2 linked regions of the Homo sapiens genome follow. The gene in region 1 interacts genetically with each later gene. Each region holds a gene or a part of one and is shown in the gene's direction. Other genes may lie near its edges. The genes, in order: SIVA1 and FOXP3.

Region 1 (11,799 bases):
TTCCTGTGACTCCAGGGATGCAAGCAACTTTTCTAGACAGTACCAAGAACAGCCCTCAGTGACTTGAGCGGCAGGAAAGCCATGCAACTGCACGGCTCTGCCCCAGGCCACGGGCGCTTCCTTCCTCAGGCCGGAGTCCCTCAGCAGCACTAGCCACCTTGAGATGGGGTGGGACACACAGGCAGAAGCCAGCCTTTGAGTATTCCCAGATGCTCTCCTTTCATAACACAGCAAGAGAGACAAAAAGGGAGCCCCGAGGCAGGGGTAAGCTCCTGGGGAGAGGGGGCTGCGGGCTTTCTCTACTCAGCCCTCACATCTACACTGGGCCCTCAAAGTCAAGTCATCTAAATTGAAATTTGAGAGCTGCAAAATAGGTTTTCAAACCTCTGTTTTGTAGTAGCTGCTAAATCTTCCACCAGAACACAAGTTGTCATCGTTTTCTTTCCTCTCGGGATGGAAGGCAGGCGTTTCACAGGGTAAAAAGACACCAACGCAGAGGGGAAATACTTCTCCCCCAGCACCAACTCACTCACTTCCACGTGAACCAGAGACAAGAGGCTCTGGCGTCTGAGCGGTGGGTTAGTGCAGACAGGCAGGTCAATCATTCGGGTCTCCACCCCCTTCTTCTCAGTAGCAGATGTTTGGAGGGTCTGAGTGGTTATAGTAAGGGGCTCTCTCCACTTTTCATCAATAACACAGCCCCAGTGTAGATGGGGTCAGAGTGGTCTCTGTTGAATACATGGGTAAAAGACAAATTAGTGATAATTGTAGTGAATTCTTATCATTTTATGACAATATTTATTCAGAATGGCATCCATTCTGAATAAAAGTGGGACTTTCTGGTACAGAAGCAGGGCTCAGTCATTCTTGACAGTTTCTAGCTCCTCACCTCCTCCCAGTTGCCCAGGGTGGTCCACCCAGATCTCTGCTTTATACACCTGCCAGCTGGTGACCAGCTCCCTATGGGACACCTGGATACAACCTACTGGACTCAGCCCCTGGCCCCCACACCCCTCACGGACTGTGCAGACGTGCCACAGTGACCACCACCCAGTCACAGCAAGATGCCATGAAGCTGATGCCTGCCGGCTCGAAATCACACCCCACAGGAAATGCACTTGAGTAACAACACCCTGGACCTGAATACAGATTTGGTGCACAGGCCGCTGGCTCGCTCCCCACCATCTGGCTGGGCCTGCCTGTTCCCCGTGGCTCCCCCTCCCCACTGGCCTGTGAGGAACGCTGCCTCCTCGCTCCCGCCCGGTTGAGTCACACACCTGCTCTGCAGTTTCATGTGTTCTGCTGTGCTGCCTCCTCCAGCTCTCACCTGACCCTTGCACCCAAACCTCACTCTCCTGGTCAGGACTCTCCCAGAGAGACCATCATGATAGGAATGAACTGATCACTGCTCAGACAAAAGCCACAGGCTGCCTGCCAAAGCCTAGAAGCAAGCTGCTGGTGAGAGGAATGCCAGCACAGCTGGATACACAGGCCTGAGGCCATCAGCCAGGGTCAGGAGGCATCCCACGAGAGCACACACTGTAACCCCATGCCCACCGCCCCCAGAGCCCCATCAGGGAAGGGCCAAAGTTTACAGCCACTCTCCAGGAGAGACCTCAAGACGAATTAGAGGAAAACTATGACAATGATTTTGTTTAATGATAATTTTCCTTTTTCCTAGCACTCTGGAAAGCTGCCAGTTTCTTTACAAGTTAACCATCAATCTGATGCAGGGCAGGTGAGCCCCAAAATTGGGGCTTAACCCTGGAGGGTTCATGGCTTCACCCAGGAAGGCATTCAAGGGTGAGCCAGTGGTGTTAGCCAGGCAAGTTTGTTAAAGCAGCAGAATCCTACCCAGCAACCTCTGAGGAACCGGCATGTGGCCTGGGGGACAGCCCCACTCCATAAGCTGCCCGATGTTCTGTATCTGTCCACGATGGTGATGAGACCCTAGGAGAGTTGCAAGTCTGAACACAGGGAAATCTTTAGAAATCCCCACGATCCATAAGATTGAAAACAATCCTCCTCTCTGAGAACTTCATCTATTTCTGGGATAAACCAAATCTGTGTTTAGTCACACGTGACTCCAACTGAGTAACTTTCAAGTCATTTCCCTAAGGCAGAAAAAATTCTCCATTATGCCAGCAAAGTGGCAAGGAAGAGCCAAGAATGCTTGATCCCATCCCCACCACAGGGAACCCTGCACGGCAGGAGGAGAAAGGACATCTAAGCTGGAGACTGGTAAGGTTTCAGCCACCCATGGCTAGGAAAGCATACACTGCCTCTGAGGGGGCGTGGGCAGCTGCAACACGGGAGTCACGTGGGAGGGGTTTGCGGGACTCCAGGCATCACCTCTTCACACCGGAGGCAACACCGATGGAGTCGTGAGAACATAGTCCAGGTGTGTCCAGAATTGGTGGGTTCTTGATCTCACTGACTTTAAGAATGAAGCACTAGGTCCTCACAGTTGACTGTTACAGTTCTTAAAATTGTTATGTCTGCAGTTTGTTCCTTCTGATGTTTGGACGTGTTTGGAGTTTGTTCCTTCTGGCAGACTCACGGTCTTGCTGGCTTCAGGAGTGGAGCTGCAGACCTTCACAAGGAGTGTTACAGCTCTTAAGGCAGTGTGTCTGGAGCTGTTCATTCCTCCCGGTGGGTTTGTGGCTTTGCTGGCCTCAGAAGTGAAGCTACACACCTTCCCAGTGAGTGTTACAGCTCATAAAAAGTGTGGACCCAAAGAGTGAAAGAGCAAAGCCCCAAACATGTGGCAGAACACCAACACGTTCCCACTGCCTGCTCGGGCGGCCTGCTTTTATTCCCTTATCTGGCCCCACCCATATCCTGCTGATTGGTCCATTTTACAGAGGGCTGGTCTGTTTTACAGAAAGCTGATTGGTCCGTCTTGACAGGGCGCTGATTGGTGTGTTTACAATCCCTGAGCTAGACACAGAAGTTCTCCAAGTCCCCACAGAGCACTGATTGGTGCATTTACAAACCTTGAGCTAGATACAGGGTGCTGATTGGTGTCTTTACAAACCTTGAGCTAGACACAGAGTGCTGATTGGTGTATTTACAGTCCCTTAGCTAGACATAAAGGTTCTCCAAGTCCCCACCAGATTAGCTAGATACAGAGTGCTGATTGGTACATTTACAAACCTTGAGCTAAACACAGAGTGCTGACTGGTGCGTCCACAATCCCACAGCTAGACATAAAGGTTCTCCAAATCCCCACCAGATTAGCTGGATACAGAGTGCCCATGGGTGCATCTACAAACCTTGAGCTAGACACAGGGTACCGATTGGTGAGTTTACAAACCTTGAGCTAAACACAGTGCTGATTGGTGTATTTACAATCCCTTAGCTTGACATAAAGGTTCTCCAAGTCGCCGCTAGACTCAGGAGCCCAGCTGGCTTCACCTAGTGGATCCCACACCGGGGCTGCAGGTGGAGCTGCCCGCCAGTCCCGCGCCGTGCGCCCGCACTCCTCAGCCCTTGGGCGGTCGATGGGACCGGGTGCCGCGGAGCAGGGGGCCGCGCAAGAGCCCACGGCAGGGGGGAGACTCAGGCATGGCGGGCTGCAGGTCCTGAGCCCTGCCTCGCGGGGAGGCAGCTGAGGCCCGGTGAGAATTCGAGCGCAGCGCCGGCGGGCCGGCACTGGTGGGGGACCCGGCGCATCCTCCGCAGCTGCTGGCCCGGGTGCTAAGCTCCTCACTGCCTGGGGCCGGTGGCTCCGATTGCGGGGCCCGCCGAGCCCACGCCCACCCGGAACTCACGCTGACCCGCAAGCGCCACGTGCAGCCCGGGTTCCCGCCCGCACCTCTCCCTCCACACCTCCCTGCAAGCTGAGGGAGCCGGCTCCGGCCGCGGCCAGCCCAGAGAGGGGCTCCCACAGTGCAGCGGCGGGCTGAAGGGCCCCTCGAGCGCGGCCAGAGTGGGCGCCGAGAGCGAGCGAGGGCTGCCAGCACGCTGTCATCTCTCACAGGGCGAAGCCCACGCCACAGGACGGGTCGGTTCTGTACCCGCCGGGGCAGGGGAGAGCCGCCTCTGGTGAGCAGAACCCCGGAGAAGGGACGACGCGGGTGCACCTCGCGGCATGGGGACACCAAGTCAGACGAACCCGCTGTGCAAGAACATTTTCCACACAGCGGCGCATACCCCCGCCCGGGGGCGCTCGGCAGCCGCACGCGGCCCTCAGAGCGCAGCCCCCACACGCCTTTACTTCTGGAAGGCGGAGACCGCCACAGTGAGGAGCTAAGCCAGCTGAGGCAACACAGAAAAACCCCCGTTCCTACCCAAAACCAAAAAGCGGGGCGCGGAGGCGCGCGCCTGCGGTCCCAGCTACCGGGGAGGCCGAGAAGGGAGGATCGCCTGAGCCCGGGAGGCGCAAGCTACAGTGAGCCGAGACTGCCACTGCACTCAGTCTGGGTGACAGAGCGAGACCCTGTCTCTAAAGGGGAAAAAAGAGCTAGGAAGAAGCGGGCTGCCTCTTAACTTCGGAGAAGTAAATGAGGAACTATAACCAGTGTCTACCGTTTAGGAACCAAACAAAAGCTGACAGGAATCCCGCCACCGACCCAGCCGCCCCAGACTTTGCCCTGGCCTATCCCGCGCCGCTCCTCAAACTAGACCCGCCCCGACGTCGCCCTGGCCTATCCCACGCCGATCCTCAAACGAGGCCCGCCCCCGATGCACAAGCTCCGCCCTCGTTGCACCGTCCTGACCCTCGGCCTCGCCCCCGCCCCCTGGCTCTTCCCGCGCAGCCGAATGCCGCGACCTGGCTCCCACCCTTCGTCGCTTCGCGCCGCATAGGAACCCCGCCCCTAGTCTCTCCTCCCGCCTATCCTGAGCGGCGCGCGCACAAATCTCTCCCACGGACCCGCCCACCCTGATCCTCAACCTGGCCCCTGGCCTTTCCCGCGGCGTCGAGTCCAGTACACCGACGCACGAGTCCCACCCCCGATCTCTCCCTCGGCCTATCCCGCGCCGCTCCGCGCAGGAGTCCCGCCTCCCACTTCGCCCGCAGCCTATGACGCGCCGCGTCGCTCCCTCTCCTCAAACCCGCTCTCGCCCGCGGATGGGCGCGCAGCTGTGACGTCACGGCGTCGTTGGTAAGGGGCTGGCGGCCGGGGAGCTGCGTAGCTCCCGGCCCCGCGGCCATGCCCAAGCGGAGCTGCCCCTTCGCGGACGTGGCCCCGCTACAGCTCAAGGTCCGCGTGAGCCAGAGGGAGTTGAGCCGCGGCGTGTGCGCCGAGCGCTACTCGCAGGAGGTCTTCGGTGAGTGTCGGGCGGGCTGCCGAGGGTCCGCTGCGTCGGGGCCTGGAACGGGCCGGGCCTCAGCGTCCCCTCTGAGGCCTGAGCGGGGGGCTGGAGGGCCCTGCTTTCTGGCCCCGCGTTCCCGGAAGCTGGGAGGCCGCGGGGACACAAGCTGGCCACGCCCAGGGCTGGGGTCAGTGAGGGGGATGTGAGGACCCCAGCGTTCGCCCACCCTGTCCAACAGCCTGAAAGAAAAGGGTCCCTGCCCCTAGCCCCCGCGCCCTCTTCCACGATCCCGGTTAGTCGCCGCCCTGCAGTGAGCGGCACCCGCCTGGTGCTTTCTCAGGACTGTCCCGTGCAGGATGTCCTGGGAGAGGTTGGGGAGCGGGGCGTCCTGCATGGAGTCAACCCGAAGAGTGCCCCTCCTGTCCCAAGAGGTATTCATGGAGCGCGCGGCCCTGCCAGGCACGGCGGCTTTCTCGGGAGACCAAAGGCAGGCAAGACAGATGTGCCCCGTCTCCCGGGAGCTCCCCAGCCTAGTTGGGGAGACCAGCAGGAGGAGTCGCCACAGGTGGTCGGGGCAGGCACAGGTTTGTGCAGGCGCACCTGCAGGGATGGCACGGAAGGCTTCTTGGAAGAACAGTCTGAGCGGAATCCTGTGGGGGCGAGTAGGAGTTAGCCAGGCAGAGGAAGGGAAGGAAGAGGGCGAGGCAGAAGCCAGGCAGCAGGAGAGCGAAATAGGACTCCGTGTGGCTGCAGTGTCCAGTTCTGGGTGGGATGTGAGGGCAGTGAGCTCCCAGGCCTTCTCTGGCTTTCTCCTGTGGATTTCAGGCGTGTTGATCTTATTGATCATCACTCTGACTGGGGTGATTAATACCCTGGGGCAGGTAAAAAGTGGAGCTTACCTTGCCTAGTGATTGGGACACAAAGTCTGCACCTGTAGAGCAGTTAGAGGATGACCCGGGGTGTGTGATTTACCTGGTGCCGCTTGTGCCTTGGGAATGAGGGAAAGACTCTGCCTCCCGAGGTTCCTCTGTGCGGTGTCTCCAGTGTGCTAGGGCTGTGAAAGCGAGTGCTATTCTGGGCCATGGGGAGGTAAGGGGAATGATGCCGTGGGAACTGTGGCAGGACCGCAATCGTGTGCCCTCTCAGGACAGTTGAAAAATTCAAACACTGTGCAGGCAAGAAGAGGAAGATGGAAATGGGGCCTGGCTCAGTATGGCCCTTTATTCTTCCCGAGTGTCCTGACCTGGGCGTTGGCAGGTGTGTGCCACTCACCGGGTCAGGTCAGGGAGGTCTGCTGGGTGCAGTGGGCCTTCCATGGTAAATGCAGGACACCTACTTTGAACTGTGTGACAGTTTCCAAATTCCAGGCCACAGCTGTTACCCTGATCTCTTAACCTCGAATTGTCCACAAGGCCTTGAGGACAAGGATTAGCCTCACCACGTGTCTGTCCCATTCCTTTCCCCTTATAGATGGGGGAAGGTGTGGGGGGCCAGGAGGAAGGTGCAGGGTGTTGTGGGCTGGCATCAGCTACTCCATGTGAGTTACCCTGTCACTATTATTGCTGCCCACTTCATGTAGAGCCACATAGAGTTTCTGGGATCTCTGCCTTTACTGTGTTATGGTGAGGTGCAAAACAAAAAACAAAGCATTTCTGGGTCTGGCCCTGGGCATCTGATTTTTCAAAGCTCCCCAGGTGACTGAACTGTGGCCTGATGGAAAACCACTGCTCCCAGGGATGGGTGGGTGTTCTAGAACAAGAGGTCTGGAAGGTTCTGGGATGCTTGTCTTGCCAGCAACTCTGTAGCAGGTGAAGGGGGTGTGCTCTGGCCAGAGGCTGTAGGCCCAGCTCCAAGCCTCTGGCTGCTTCCTTGGCAGGGGACGAGTTTTGTGAATTAGTGCTCCACAGTGCAGAGCTCCCTCTGTGCATTCCACAGAGCCTGGTTTCCAGGTGGGGAGTGCTGGGGAAGCAGAAAAGGGAGAAAGGGGACAAGCTTAGTGAGGCGAGGCCAGCCGTGAATTGCAGAAAATGAGCCGAGTGATAGGAGAGGGAACCCTTGCATCAGACACAGGTGGGGCTGCAGGGCCAGAGCCTTCCTGGAGGAGATGACAGCTAAGCCAGGTAAGGAAAGGACGCACAAGCATTCTCAGCATAGAGGCAGAGCAGGACCCAGCTCGCCAGGGCACAACACAGGCTGGGGTTACTGGGAGACAGAGGGCACACAGGAGGACGATGGGGTTCATGTGAGGCTAGAAAGACTCAATGGCCATGCAGGGGCTTCGTTGGTACACAGTGAAGGACGTGAGAATGATTTATCTTCCCCCAGAGAAGACCAAGCGACTCCTGTTCCTCGGGGCCCAGGCCTACCTGGACCACGTGTGGGATGAAGGCTGTGCCGTCGTTCACCTGCCAGAGTCCCCAAAGCCTGGCCCTACAGGGGCCCCGAGGGCTGCACGTGGGCAGATGCTGATTGGACCAGACGGCCGCCTGATCAGGAGCCTTGGGCAGGCCTCCGAAGCTGGTGAGTGGCACCAGCAGCCCTTTGTGGCTGTGGCACTGAGGGCAGGTGGTGGCACGAGCATTTTTCTTGATTTGCAAGGTCAGGCTTTTCCTCCCTGGGTAAGCAGGACTCTGACCCAGAGCTTGGCCTTCTGGCTCAGAAGGCTCCTGTTATCAGGAGGTCTCACATTCAAGACTGGAAGTTGTTAAACAGCTTCTAAGTACTGGGCCAAAAAAGCAGCAGAGACTCCCCGGGTATCCCGTCTGCTTTCCGCCTGCAGCCCCCTCAGATAGTCCCACAAGGCTGGAAACATGCCAGTCCCATCCCTATGCAGTGTGGGGTCTCAGAGCATCACCTGTGTTGCTGGTTAGAAATGCAATCCCCGACTCTACCTCAAGTCTGGTTGGTGTGTCTAGGAGGAGCCCAGGCACCTCTTTGTTAACCAGTAAGGCAGTGGGCCACACTGAGACCCAGATGGGACACATGGAGTTCTGACAAGCAACAGGGGAAGAATGGTCCTTCCAGCACTAGCCTCCAGGTAGCAGAGGGACCTGGTAAGGGAAAGAGCACTGAACTTGGAGTCAACTACAGGCATATCTCACCTTGGATCTCTGTAGTAAAACGGGGGTCCTGTGCACTGTACCAGGCTCACGGGTTGTCAGAAGGATCCAGTGTAGGTGGGGATGGGGTAGGCAGGTCAGAGCCCTCTGCCCTCAGGTATGCATGGAGGCAGGTAGCCCGGCAGTCCCGGAAACTCCAGTCTCCTTGCAGCCTGACGGCTTGGCGTTTCTTCCTCACAGACCCATCTGGGGTAGCGTCCATTGCCTGTTCCTCATGCGTGCGAGCCGTGGATGGGAAGGCGGTCTGCGGTCAGTGTGAGCGAGCCCTGTGCGGGCAGTGTGTGCGCACCTGCTGGGGCTGCGGCTCCGTGGCCTGTACCCTGTGTGGCCTCGTGGAGTAAGTACTTCAGTCCCTGGAGCTGCTGAGATCCCATAGCCCCAGCAAGCCGTGATGGGGGACGGGTGGGTCACCCATGTGGGCCCAGAACACACACGTGTGGCCCCTGATGCAGTGCCATCTGGCATTGCCTAACGGGACATGGTGGCAATAGATGCTTGGCCCAACTTTAGTGGTTAGTAATCCTCTCTAAGGGAAAGCTGAACCTCACAGATGACCTGCTCTGTATCCGGCTCTAGTCCCTGTCTTCAGCCACTTCCTGTTCTGATCTTTGAGCACCCCCACCTCCTCCTCCTCTGGTCTTTGAGCCCCCCCTCCCCCCGTCCGAGGAGCCCCTGGTTGGTGACACAGGTGCACACCGCAGCTTCACCACAGTCATGCGTGCCGTTTGGTTGTAGACCCTCTCAGGCAGGAAGTGGAGTGTTTGTGTAGTCTCCCATTTGTGGGTGGGTTTGCTGCAGCTGGCTGGATCCCGTCCTTACTCCTAAGGTGGGGAGGGGCGTTCTCACCCTAGGGGCTACTCACCTGGTGGATGGGAGTGGACAGTGTGGAGCCTGTTTGCCCTGCCCCGTGAGAAAGATGACTTCATCCAGACACATGTGGAACTGGCTCCATAGACCCAAAGCAAGCTTAGTCCAAACAATGTCTGAAATTGTCCATCTAAAATAGAAACCACATGTTACATCTCGAGTCCTTTCTCTCGAGCCTTTCTTCAGTCGGGGCAGAGGCCCAGACTCATTGGAGACGGAGAGCCCTGGGCAGGGGGGGCAGCACCAGGGAGAAGCGCCGCGTGCCAGTGATCGGCTCCCATGGCTTCAGCATGGGCAGGAGTGGGGTAACGCACCCCATCCAGGTTGGGAATCATCTGCAGGGCTAGCTATGAATGTGGGATACTCTGTCTTTGCTTTTCACCCGCTGAGTTCATCTTCTTTCCTAGAAGTAAACTGAAAAGGGCAGGGTTTTCTCATTGTCTGGTGGCCCTCTCACCAAAGCAGAAGTGAACATAGCCATGGGCAGGTTCAGCGGAGAGGTGGGTCCCAGAGCGCTGCGTGGCTGGCCTCCCACTCCTGCCCTGCACACCATCCTTGAGGGACTCCCTTGCGCCCATTTCCTCCTGGCCTCTACCTACTTTCTGCTGCTGCTTCCTCCCATACCCACAGAGTTCACGTTGAGCTGAGTGGGCCACTGTCCCCACTGTGGACACACTCTTTTATCGCAGCTACAGCACAGGAGGTGGGCTCTGCCCTCTTTCACAAATAAATGACTTGTTCCAGGTCACAAGCCAGAAGTGGCATTCCCAGGCCAGGCAGCCCAGCTGGTGGCACCCGCAGTCTCCTACCCCCTCCCCTGCCATTTCCTACTTCAGGACCAGGCGTCGCAGGAGTGGGGGAAAACAGGGATCTGTCCACACGGCTCTGGTTTAACACAGATGCAGCCCAGCAGCCTTTGGCGTCCTGCTGATGGCCTGCACTGGCCCACGCCTGGCCCGTCCTCTGCAGGGCTCTCCAGCTGGCTGCCGGTGGCGGTGAGGGGCTGTCTTCGCGGCTCACCCACAATACTACTGGCAAACTCTGCAAACCAAGTGGCAAGCAGTTCTGGCTGCCTTGTTGACTCCACGGCCCTGTCGTGTTTGGGGTAGCCATTGCCAGTCCCGTTTCCTCGCAACATCTCTCTTAATCACTTTCTCCCTGTGTTTTGCCGGGTTCCCTAGCCTTTACCTTTAGAGCTTTCTTTTTTTTTTTTTTTTGAGACGGAGTCTCGCTCTGTCACCCAGGCTGGAGTGCAGTGGTGCGATCTTGGCTCACTGCAACTTCCACCTCCTGTGTTCAAGCAATTTTCCTGTCTCAGCCTCCCAAGTAGCTGGAGTTACAGGCGTGCGCTAGCACGCCCAGCTAATTTTTGTATTCTTAGTAGAGACAGAGTTTCACCATGTTGGCCAGGCTGGTCTCGAACTCCTGACCTCAGGTGATCCTCCGGCCTCAGCCTCCCAAAGTGCTGAGGTAAGCCACACCATACGCGTGAGCCACCATGCCCGGCCCTACCCTTAGTCTTGATATATCAGAAAAGCACTGTTTGATGTGCTTCAGTGTAAACCATTGTGGTTCGGTGAATTCTGGCAGGTCATCTGGAGGTTTCTTTGGAGAGCTTCTATCCTACTGGAAACCCAGGTTGGGCCCCATGTGGATTGATCGGCAGTGGGAATCAGCTAGGGCTGCTGTAACTGAGTTCGCAGACCCAGTGGCATAGACAGCAAAGAGGTACTGCCACGTGGCTTTGGAGACCAGAAGTCTGAGAGGAAGGTGCTGGCAGGGCTGGTTCCTTCTGAGGCTGCAATGGAAAACCTGTCCTGGCCTCTCTCCTGGCATCTGCTGGTTATCTTTGGTGTTCCCTGTAGACAGCTGCCCCCTCCCTGTATCTTCATGTCGTCTTCCTTCTCTGTGTCCTTCTCTTCACGTAGTCTTTTTAGGACGCTGGTCGTGTTGCCTTAGGGCCCCCATGTCAGTGCCGTCATCTAGACTGATGATGCCCGCAGTGATCCTGTCTCCAGATAAGGTCATGTCCTGAGGTGTTCTGGGTTAGGACTTTGACGTTTGAATGGTGGGGGGTGGTGGACACAATTCAGCCCCTGACAGCAGCTTTTCTCTCCCCTCCCTGACGCTGTCGCAGCTGCAGTGACATGTACGAGAAAGTGCTGTGCACCAGCTGTGCCATGTTCGAGACCTGAGGCTGGCTCAAGCCGGCTGCCTTCACCGGGAGCCACGCCGTGCATGGCAGCCTTCCCTGGACGAGCGCTCGGTGTTCACACTGAACTGTGGGGTCGACGGGAGGGGTGCCTTTTACATGTTCTATTTTGTATCCTAATGACAGAATGAATAAACCTCTTTATATTTGCACAAGAGGACTCTTGTCTGTCAGCACTTCTGAGGGTGGAGTTTGTGACCCTCCACCTGGGAGGGCCAAAGGAGCAGTCAGTGGGCGGGGCCTGCTGCACCTGCTGTCTACCCGCCAGCTCCTAGAGACCCCACTGTGCATTGTGTGAGGCCCCTTACTCGCCCCCTGCTACAGGTGGGAAGGCTCAGCCCA
Region 2 (11,153 bases), on another chromosome or scaffold:
TGACCCTCTCTGCTAATTCTCCTTCCAAAAGGTTGTCCTATTTTATGCTCCCTCTACTTAAGCTAACCCTAGGTGAGTATTATTATGTTTTAATTATTTCCCAACATGACAGGTAAGAAAAACACATTATCACATTGTTGAAATTTGCATCTTGTGATTACTTTTACTATTCATTGGCCATTCATGCTTTTTTTTTTTTTTTTTTGGTTGTCTGGTCATGTCCTTACTCCTAATAGGGTGTTCATCTTATTTTTCCCTTATTGATTTGCCACAGCTCTTTATTTGGAATGGTTATTAACCTTTCATCAGCCATTACATATATAGCAAATATTTTCCCCAATTCATCATTTGCTTTTTTTCTATTTGTTTATGGTGTTTTTTGTGATGCTTATGATGGTTTTATACAGTCAAATAGGTTAGTCTTTTTTTCTGTGGCTTCTGTCTCTGGTTTTGTGCTTAGAAAGTCCTTTCCTACTTGAAAATGAGATAAATGTTCACCTATGTTGGCTTCTAGTCTCTTTTATGGCTTCATTTTTTCCATTTACTATAGAGGTTAAGAGTGTGGGTACTGGAGCCAGACTGTCTGGGACAAACCCAGCGTCACCCCAAGCCCTATGTGTGATTTTTAGCCAGGCACTTAACCTCTCCATACCTCCATTTCCTCATATGTACTGCAATGGTTATAATAGTACCTTCCTCAGGAGTCTTTGTTTAGATTAAAATTTTTAACCACAGTAAATACTTAGCACAAGGCCTGACACACAATAAACCCAAGATCAGCATTAGGTGTTAAAACTTATATCTTGAATGGATCTGGGCATTTTAGGGTATATGATGATGGTGACATTTCAAACTGGGCAGGGAGGGGTTGTTGGGATAATGGACTGACTATTCACTCAATAACTTTATCTTCTCCCTAATTATCTCAGACACATTTGTTAAACCATACTCCATGGTCCTCCAGTTTGAAATGCCACATTCATCACAAATTCAGTTCTCTCCATATGTGGGTCCATGTCCAAGCTTTCTATTCTGTTCTCTTCCCCAGTATCTGTTCTTATACCAGGGCCACACTGTTTTGCTGATTGTTGCTTTGCAATACAATTCAATACCCAGCCATGGGTGTCCCTGGCACCTTGCCCTTCTTTATTCTTGATTATTTCAGGCAGCATCAGTTGAACCAGCCAGAGACCAGCAAATGTTCTTATTTGAGGCAATCCTCCTCTCGCACACATGCACTCTGGCTCTCCATGCATGTGTCCATTTCTCTCAATGTCTCTCACTATCTCTTGTTCTCTCTTGCTCGCTCTTTGTGTGTGTCTCTTTGTCTCTATGTATCCCTATCTCTCAGCCAGTCCCCTGGATAGAGGGGCAATTGTCAACTTGAAGCCCTGCAGACACCTAATGACTTAACCAGACAGCGTAGAAGGGCCCTGGCCCTTGTCTACTCCACGCCTCTCCGTGCTCAGTGTAGAAGGGCAAATTGAAGACCAGAGATCTCAGGGCCTCACCGAAATGCAGCGGCAGAGTTGAAATCCAAGCCTAGATCTCAGGACTCTAGGTGGGACCCTGGTTCTGGCTCTCTCCCCAACTGCAGGCCTCAGTTTACCCCTCAGCACCCAGAAGGGGGAAGGGGAACCTGGGCTACCATTCCCCCTTCTGCCTTCTCACACGTTGGACCCCAACTTCCCACAGGTTGGACGATCCACGATCACAGTGTGGGGCCCAGCCTCACAAGAGCTGGGCTAGGTGAGGCCCCGGACTCCATAGGTCAGGAGGCCTAGTTGGCCAGAGCGTGGTGATGATGGAGGCATGTCAGTCAGTCAGGCTGTGTGTCCCCAGAGCTGGTGCTGGTCCCCGAAAACCTTGATTGTGGGGCCCCTCTAGAGAGTCTGATGATGGGCTCTGTATTGGCGAAGGCTGAGGCTTTTCCAGCTCCCCCCATGAGGCCCAGACCAAAGGCACACCAGCCTCAACCTCCTCCTCCCCCTGTTGCCATCTCTGGCGGAGTGGCCATGTATTTGGGAACGTTGTTCCAGAGTGGACAGGGAGACTGAGGCCCTAGGGAGGCTGGCTCTGTTTCCAGGCCTGGTAGGCAAGAGGCCCTATGAAGCAGCAAGCTGCCTGACTTTCAGATGGTTCCAAGGAGTTTGGACACCAGGGACACTGGCCTACACATACTGAGACTTTGGGACCGTAGACCCCACAGTCTGTGGTTTTGAGATTCTAGGATCCTTTAAATCTAAGAAATGCTGTTCTATGATTCTGAGGTCCTGGTGTTATACTATTTGAAGACCCCAGGGGTCCCAGTATCTGTGGAGCCTGCCTGGCACTCTCAGAGCTTCAAACCTGGGTCCTCTCCACAACCCAAGAAGGGCCAGGTCTTCAGAGCTAGGGGCTTGTCATAGTGGCCAGATGGACATCACCTACCACATCCACCAGCACCCATGTCACCCCACCTGGGCCAAGCCTGCTGCAGGACAGGGCAGCCAGTTCTCGGAACGAAACCTGTGGGGTGGGGTATCTGCCCTCTTCTCTTCCTCCGTGGTGTCGATGAAGCCCGGCGCATCCGGCCGCCATGACGTCAATGGCGGAAAAATCTGGGCAAGTCGGGGGCTGTGACAACAGGGCCCAGATGCAGACCCCGATATGAAAACATAATCTGTGTCCCAGAAACATCCCCCATTCAGCTTCTGAGAAACCCAGTCAGAAAGGGACGTCCCAACAGACAGTGCAGGAAGCCGGCTGCCCAGCCCGGCCCTCTAGGTCCTCTACCCCCAGACAGATCATCTCCATGTCCCTGTCTGAGAATGTATCTATGCTTTGCTGAGTCAGGCCATCCCACATGTGTTTGGGGAGAATTCTTAGCTCTGGCCAAGTGTCCAGGCAGCTTCAGAAGTGACCACAGGCCAGCCACATGGGCCAGGCCAGAGTGGTGGAAAACATCCATTTGCACCGAAATCGGTATTAGTTTGTTCTGGCTGCTATAACAAAGTACCACAACTGAGTGGCTTCAGCAACAGAAATTGATCATCTCACAGTTCTGGAGGCCAGAGTCCAAGATCAAGGTGTTGCCAGGGTTGGTTCCTTCTGGGGGCCATAAGGGAGAAGCTGCTCCAGGCCTCTCCCCCAGCTTCTGGTGGTTGCTGGCAATCTTTGTTATTTCTTGGCTTGAAGGAGCATCACCCCATCTCTGGCTTCATTCATTCACTCACCTTCTCATCTCACCAGTGCTCTCCCAGGCCCTTGTTCGGAGCCTCCACAGACCCACACTCCTGTTTCTCACGCAGTAATGTTCTAAGCCCCCAGGAGACTAAGAACTTAATACCTGGATTCTCACACTCATCTCCCTCAGCACCACAGCTCTGACAACCACCCCCAGGAGGTGACAGCAAAGAAAGGAAGGAGCAACTGCTCCCCCAGAACCCTTCTATACTCCCCCGGGCTGCTCTCAGCAGCTGTGTGCCCAACTCAGTGCTGTGAGGTGGAACGGGGAGATGGAGACACACACACACACACACCAGAGAGTTTATAAAATGTGCACACGGAAACACTTCCTAAAGAAAGAAGTGGAGTTCTCAAGTCACTATGGGACTACGGAACTCGGCATCTGAGCATCCCCTTCTGTATAATGGGGTTGGCTGGGCAGTCCCTTCCAGCTCTGGCTTCCTCTCAGACCAGGATTATAGGATCCTGAAAAGCCAGTGCTTCCCTCAGGGAGTGGAAGGTTCTGGGGCTCAGCAGGGGGCCCGGAGCCATTGTGGAGGGCTTTCAAGGTGAGGACAATAGAAGAGCAGGTCTTGCGTGGCTTGGACAGGGAAAGAGGAGAAGGAGTGGGCATTTGAGGCAGGGGGTGTAGCATGAGCCAGGCTTGAGGGCCAGAAATTGGGGTGAACTCTGATGGGGGCTGGGTAGAGAAGCTTCTACAGGCCCCAGCTCAAGAGACCCCATCTCTCCTCCTCTCTGTCACTTGCCATGCTGGATCCGTGCATGATCACACTCCTGGACTCGCCTCCTTGCCCTGAGATCCAGACCCCCGTATTCAGCTGCCCCCTCAGCTCCTCCACTCACATATTTAATGCCAGACTCTTCATGTCTATCTACACCTGCACTTTTGCACCCAATCCAACTCCCCGCCATGTCCCCCATCTCAGGTAATGTCAGCTCGGTCCTTCCAGCTGCTCAAGCTAAAACCCATGTCACTTTGACTCTCCCTCTTGCCCACTACATCCAAGCTGCTAGCACTGCTCCTGATCCAGCTTCAGATTAAGTCTCAGAATCTACCCACTTCTCGCCTTCTCCACTGCCACCAGCCCATTCTGTGCCAGCATCATCACTTGCCAGGACTGTTACAATAGCCTCCTCACTAGCCCCACTCACAGCAGCCAGATGAATCTTTTGAGTCCATGCCTAGTCACTGGGGCAAAATAGGACTCCGAGGAGAAAGTCCGAGACCAGCTCCGGCAAGATGAGCAAACACAGCCTGTGCAGGGTGCAGGGAGGGCTAGAGGCCTGAGGCTTGAAACAGCTCTCAAGTGGAGGGGGAAACAACCATTGCCCTCATAGAGGACACATCCACACCAGGGCTGTGCTAGCGTGGGCAGGCAAGCCAGGTGCTGGACCTCTGCACGTGGGGCATGTGTGGGTATGTACATGTACCTGTGTTCTTGGTGTGTGTGTGTGTGTGTGTGTGTGTGTGTGTCTAGAGCTGGGGTGCAACTATGGGGCCCCTCGGGACATGTCCCAGCCAATGCCTGCTTTGACCAGAGGAGTGTCCACGTGGCTCAGGTGGTCGAGTATCTCATACCGCCCTAGCACACGTGTGACTCCTTTCCCCTATTGTCTACGCAGCCTGCCCTTGGACAAGGACCCGATGCCCAACCCCAGGCCTGGCAAGCCCTCGGCCCCTTCCTTGGCCCTTGGCCCATCCCCAGGAGCCTCGCCCAGCTGGAGGGCTGCACCCAAAGCCTCAGACCTGCTGGGGGCCCGGGGCCCAGGGGGAACCTTCCAGGGCCGAGATCTTCGAGGCGGGGCCCATGCCTCCTCTTCTTCCTTGAACCCCATGCCACCATCGCAGCTGCAGGTGAGGCCCTGGGCCCAGGATGGGGCAGGCAGGGTGGGGTACCTGGACCTACAGGTGCCGACCTTTACTGTGGCACTGGGCGGGAGGGGGGCTGGCTGGGGCACAGGAAGTGGTTTCTGGGTCCCAGGCAAGTCTGTGACTTATGCAGATGTTGCAGGGCCAAGAAAATCCCCACCTGCCAGGCCTCAGAGATTGGAGGCTCTCCCCGACCTCCCAATCCCTGTCTCAGGAGAGGAGGAGGCCGTATTGTAGTCCCATGAGCATAGCTATGTGTCCCCATCCCCATGTGACAAGAGAAGAGGACTGGGGCCAAGTAGGTGAGGTGACAGGGCTGAGGCCAGCTCTGCAACTTATTAGCTGTTTGATCTTTAAAAAGTTACTCGATCTCCATGAGCCTCAGTTTCCATACGTGTAAAAGGGGGATGATCATAGCATCTACCATGTGGGCTTGCAGTGCAGAGTATTTGAATTAGACACAGAACAGTGAGGATCAGGATGGCCTCTCACCCACCTGCCTTTCTGCCCAGCTGCCCACACTGCCCCTAGTCATGGTGGCACCCTCCGGGGCACGGCTGGGCCCCTTGCCCCACTTACAGGCACTCCTCCAGGACAGGCCACATTTCATGCACCAGGTATGGACGGTGAATGGGCAGGGAGGAGGGAGCAGGTGGGAGAACTGTGGGGAGGGGCCCCGAGTCAGGCTGAACCACAGCCCACATGTGCCCCCCAGCTCTCAACGGTGGATGCCCACGCCCGGACCCCTGTGCTGCAGGTGCACCCCCTGGAGAGCCCAGCCATGATCAGCCTCACACCACCCACCACCGCCACTGGGGTCTTCTCCCTCAAGGCCCGGCCTGGCCTCCCACCTGGTAACACCTCAGCCCGTACCCCATGGCTTCACAGAACCCCCAAGTCCCCAGATCCTTGGCTGTGAGCAGTGTAGGCTATTCTGAATTGCAGTACTCTGGGGGTCAAAGGTGTCAGGTCTCAGAGGCTTGGAAACTCCACCCTCCAAAAAACGTCAGGTGCAGAACCTTAAAGATGCAGAATGTCAAAATCACAAAACCACAGAGCTTTACAAAGCTAGTCAAAATGTCAGCACCTGCGAATGGCCGTCTTTAAGCTTCTCTGCCAGAAGCCTGGGACTTTGGGGACAGCAGAGCCCCCTGGGAGTCAGGGTTTTCGAGGCTCAGGAGGGTGGGAAGCTCAAAATGAGAGGCCTTGTGGGCCAAGCTCCAGAGCCCAGCCCACAGCCTCCATAGGTGCCCTGTCCCCACCCACAGGGATCAACGTGGCCAGCCTGGAATGGGTGTCCAGGGAGCCGGCACTGCTCTGCACCTTCCCAAATCCCAGTGCACCCAGGAAGGACAGGTCAGTGGACAGGGCTGGGAAGGATCCTCGCCCTCCTATCCCCTCCCCTGACACCCTCTGTCCCCCCAGCACCCTTTCGGCTGTGCCCCAGAGCTCCTACCCACTGCTGGCAAATGGTGTCTGCAAGTGGCCCGGATGTGAGAAGGTCTTCGAAGAGCCAGAGGACTTCCTCAAGTGAGTGGCCCAGGCCTGTGCCAGTCTACCGGCCCTGGCTTGTGGGGAGAGGTCTAGGGTGCAGATCTCAGCTCAGGCTTCATCCCAATAAGTAGTAAGATGCAAGAGCTAAACTCTGAGACTGTGGGTTCAAATCCCAGCTCCATCCCTGACTGGCTGTGTGACCTTGGACAAATTACTTAGCTTCTCTCGACCTCAGTTTTCTCGTATGTATAATAAGAAACGTTTGTGCTGTTATTTACCCCCATTTTACAGACAAGGAGACTGAGGCCAAAGAGGTTAAGTGTCTTGATCAAAATCTCCCAGTTCCTGAGTGACAGAGCTGGGATTTGAACCCATGTAGCCAGGCTCTAGAATCTGCACTCCTGCTTTGCCCTGCTACTCCTCATGCCAACATGCCAGCCTTATTCCACTGTTCCCAAAGTTCTAGCTCCTCTAGATGGCTGCTGCTGCCTCCCCTCAGTCCCCCCATATGTCTCTCTCTCTCTCTCTCTCTCTCTCTCTCTCTCTCTCTCTCTCTCTCTCTCTCTTTCTCTCTCTCTCACACACACACACACACAAATACACACCACACTACACACAACCCTTAGCAGCAACCCCACATGTCCTGTCCTCCTTGCAGCCAGGCCTTTGCACAGGCCGTCCCTCCACCCAGAATGCTTTGCCCACTCTCACCTCCCTGGCCCATTCTCAACTCACCACACTTCCAACATTATCTCCAGCACTCTGGCCAGGCTCAAGTGGTGAGTTCAGGCCTGACATGCAGTAGGTGCTGAGGGGCATGTGTTAAGGGAACGAGGGGTGTGAGAGGGAGACTGAGGTAGAGAGGGGAGGGGAGCTGGGGCTCAGAGGAGAGAACTCCCAGAGGGTCTGGGCCCTCCCCATTCAGAGCATTGAGCCAGACCAGGCCTGTCGTGGTCACCTGCATGGAATCTTCTCCCTACTTAGGCACTGCCAGGCGGACCATCTTCTGGATGAGAAGGGCAGGGCACAATGTCTCCTCCAGAGAGAGATGGTACAGTCTCTGGAGCAGCAGGTAATGCCAGGGCGGTGGAGGGTAAGGGATAGGGATAGTGCGCAAAACCTTCTGTCCACCATGTGCCAGAAACCAAGTTCACCTGGGACGAGGGCTGGTATAAAGGAAGGAAGAGGAGCGGGCACTCCCAGGGAAGACCGTAGCCTGGGCAAAGATGTGGCAGAGAAGGGCCAGGCTGAGGCCTCATGTTTGTGCCATTTCACAGCTGGTGCTGGAGAAGGAGAAGCTGAGTGCCATGCAGGCCCACCTGGCTGGGAAAATGGCACTGACCAAGGCTTCATCTGTGGTGAGCGACCCCAGGACTGGTGGTGGCAGACTCAGACTGCTGGGGGGCAGGGAGGAGGTCTGCACGGTGCAGGGAACCTAACCTCACATTCAGGTCCTGAGAGCTAGGGGCCCCTGTCCCCAGCTCCAAACATGCCCAGACCTGGAAATCTGTCCCCTTCTACTTACAAACCCTCTGACCCCGGCTGGGCGTGGTGGCTCACGCCTGTAATCCCAGCACTTTGGGAGGCCGAGGCGGGTGGATCACGAGGTCAGGAGTTCAAGACCAGCCTCGCCAAGATGGTGAAACCCTGTGTCTACTAAAAGTACAAAAAATTAGCCAGGCGTGGTGGCAGGTGTCTGTAGTCCCAACTACTTGGGAGGCTGAGGCAGAGAATTGCTTGAACCTGGGAGGCGGAGTTTGCAGTGAGCTGAGATCATACCACTGCACTCCAGCCTAGGCGACAGATCAAGACTCCGTCTCAAGAAAAAAAAAAAAAAAAAACCCTCTGACTCTAAGATCCCCAAACACTGTGATCCTGAGTTGTTAAAGCAAATGCAAATAGCCAGACTTGCCAGATGCAGGCTGTGTGCCAGCAGGACCAGCTATGTAACCTGCAGGGCCCCTTGTTCAGATTTCAAGATGGCGACCACAGAGCATTAAACAAAGCACAGGGTGCCACATAACCACATAGGTCACACGCCCATGAAGCCAGCCCTGGAGGCCAGGCACTGTTTCTGAGCGCTTTGCTGGTGGTAATTTATTTCTCATGATGCGAATGTACAGATGAGGAATATTGAGGCCAGGGGGGTTTAGGTGACTTTCCCAAGGTCACAGTTGGGTGGTAAAGAGCCCTATTCAACCCCAGTTCATGGTCCCAGCATCAGTGGCCACATACGACATCCGCACCTGTGCTCTAATAAATACGGCTCATGCTGTTTTGTGGGATTCCACCTCAGACTGGAATTTAGAAGAGGGCGTCCTTGCTTTGAAAAACACTGATTTAAAAATAAAGTGGAGCCAGGCGCAGTGGCTCATGCCTGTAATCCCAGCACTTTGGGAGGCTGAAGCGGGTGGATCACATGAGGTCAGGAGTTCGAGACCAGCCTGGCTAACATGGTGAAACCCCATCTCTACCAAAAATACAAAAATTAGCTGGGCGTAGTGACGGGCACCTGTAGTCCCAGCTACTCGGGAGGCTGAGGCAGAAGACTTGCTTGAATCTGGGAGGTGGGGGTTGCAGTGAGCCGAGATTGCACCACTGCACTCCAGCCTGGGCGACAGAGCAAGACTCAGTATCAAAAAAAATAAAAAACATAAAATAGAAAGTAAAAAGTGGGAAGTTTAAGCCTCTGGGTCACCAGCCTCTCCCCCTCACCCAGGCATCATCCGACAAGGGCTCCTGCTGCATCGTAGCTGCTGGCAGCCAAGGCCCTGTCGTCCCAGCCTGGTCTGGCCCCCGGGAGGCCCCTGACAGCCTGTTTGCTGTCCGGAGGCACCTGTGGGGTAGCCATGGAAACAGCACATTCCCAGGTAAGAATGGTCCTTGCACTACACGGTGCCCCCAAGCTCCTAATCCTGACAGGCTCTGGGTGGAGGGTGCAAAGGAGCTCCATGCTGCCCCTTCCCACCACCACCACCACTGCAGCTGCCGCCACTCAGCCTTTGGGAAAATGCATCCGCTCACAAAAGCTTCCTTTCGGGATGTCCGTGGCCTGAAAGCCCCCCATATGGTCTCGAGTGTCGGGCCCCTAGCCCTGACTCCCTTGGGGATTGGGGCCATGCCTCACCCACTCTGGACTCCAGCTACTATATTCGGCCATCAGAAGGGAGGGACCCTGCTAAGTAATTCCAGGAGCACCTCCTTTCCTCCCCTGACCAAGGAAAATCGGGGTGGATTCGCCCGAGCTCACCTATCCACTGCTCTCCACCAGGCCTGGCCTGTGGGCTTAGCAGGGATCAGAGACCTTGACTGTCATCCTGGCTCTGCCATTTAACCTCTTGCATCCTTTGGTGTGCAAGTTACTCCGCTTCTTTTCAACCTCGGGGAGAACTATTTTGGCAGAAGTGGTGCAAAGAATAAATGATACAACTTATGTCAGGTGCTCAGCAAACAGTACCTGTGCCCGTGGACACGGGTGTTGACGGTGAGATCTCAGGCCTGTAGACTCACCTTGTAGGGGGAGGGGACAGGGAGCTAGCTAGGAGGTCCTGCATGGGGCTTGATTCATCCCCACCCTCTGACAGAGTTCCTCCACAACATGGACTACTTCAAGTTCCACAACATGCGACCCCCTTTCACCTACGCCACGCTCATCCGCTGGGTAAGCAGGGCAGCTCGGCCCCAAGGAGGAGGAAGACAAAGATGGGGTGGGGGACCTGCCTCCCAAACTCCTGTCTCCCTCTGAGTGCCCTCAGAGTGGGTTCCTCCATTCCCAAGCCCCAGCCCCAAGGATCCCCAAGCCGTGCCTCAAATGTGACCCCTCATGCTGGCTTCACCCCAAACCTGTCCGCAAATCCAAACCTAAACCACCATCCAGGCCAGAGCATGCCAAATTCTGACCCTAAACCTACCCCTTTCCAGATGTCCACCTCAGCCCCATACCTAACCCTCTCCTGGACCCATAAAATAGCCTAAAGCTAACCCCATCTCTGCACCTTGCCCTAAACGTACCCCAGCTCTTACTCTAACTCCTTCCCCAGCCTTTATGCCAACCCAACCCCATCTCCTTCCCTGGCCCCAACGTACCCCAGTATGTCAATACACCCCCAACTGGGCACCATTCCCAACCTTTCCTTGTAACACCCATTTGATCCTTAACTTCATCACCCCATCCCAACTCCTTCATCTCAGCCTCCCCAATGCCTTCTCAGAACCTTCATCCTAGCGCCACACCTAACCCCAAACCTGAACCTCACCCCTACATGATACCAGATATTCCCCGACTGTCTCTGAACTGAAACCCTGACCTAGCCCCATCCTGACTGATAGCCTCACTGCAATCATCATCGCTGACTCTGTAATCCCATTCCTGAATCCAAACTGATCAAATTCCCTGACCCTCAGCCTCACTCCACACCGAACCCCACAACTAACCTCATCCTTGCCCTGAGCCTAACCACCTAACCATGTCCCTGACACGTAAGATACTCGATAATTCAAACCATCTCTGGCTTCTGACCTAAAGCCAAGTCATCCCATCCCTCACCCCTAGACCCCCCAC

Evidence for each region.
Region 2: of SIVA1 (region 1) and FOXP3, changing one enhances a phenotype caused by changing the other (phenotypic enhancement), as found in Homo sapiens cells (one study listed by BioGRID).

Annotation. Positions count from the first base shown.
Region 1 is NC_000014.9:104,748,046-104,759,844, forward strand, and holds SIVA1 (apoptosis regulatory protein Siva), read left to right. Parts: upstream 1-5,101; 5' UTR 5,102-5,156; coding exon 5,157-5,274; exon of another isoform or gene 5,275-6,426; intron 6,427-7,584; coding exon 7,585-7,779; intron 7,780-8,360; exon of another isoform or gene 8,361-8,558; coding exon 8,559-8,715; exon of another isoform or gene 8,716-9,375; intron 9,376-11,173; coding exon of another isoform or gene 11,174-11,204; exon of another isoform or gene 11,205-11,382; coding exon 11,383-11,440; 3' UTR 11,441-11,609; downstream 11,610-11,799. UniProt on the Homo sapiens protein: Induces CD27-mediated apoptosis. Inhibits BCL2L1 isoform Bcl-x(L) anti-apoptotic activity. Inhibits activation of NF-kappa-B and promotes T-cell receptor-mediated apoptosis.
Region 2 is NC_000023.11:49,252,226-49,263,378, reverse strand, and holds part of FOXP3 (forkhead box protein P3), read left to right. Parts: intron 1-4,851; 5' UTR 4,852-4,873; coding exon 4,874-5,083; intron 5,084-5,610; coding exon 5,611-5,715; intron 5,716-5,813; coding exon 5,814-5,952; intron 5,953-6,366; coding exon 6,367-6,454; intron 6,455-6,523; coding exon 6,524-6,628; intron 6,629-7,576; coding exon 7,577-7,664; intron 7,665-7,869; coding exon 7,870-7,950; intron 7,951-9,311; coding exon 9,312-9,462; intron 9,463-10,176; coding exon 10,177-10,253; intron 10,254-11,153. UniProt on the Homo sapiens protein: Transcriptional regulator which is crucial for the development and inhibitory function of regulatory T-cells (Treg).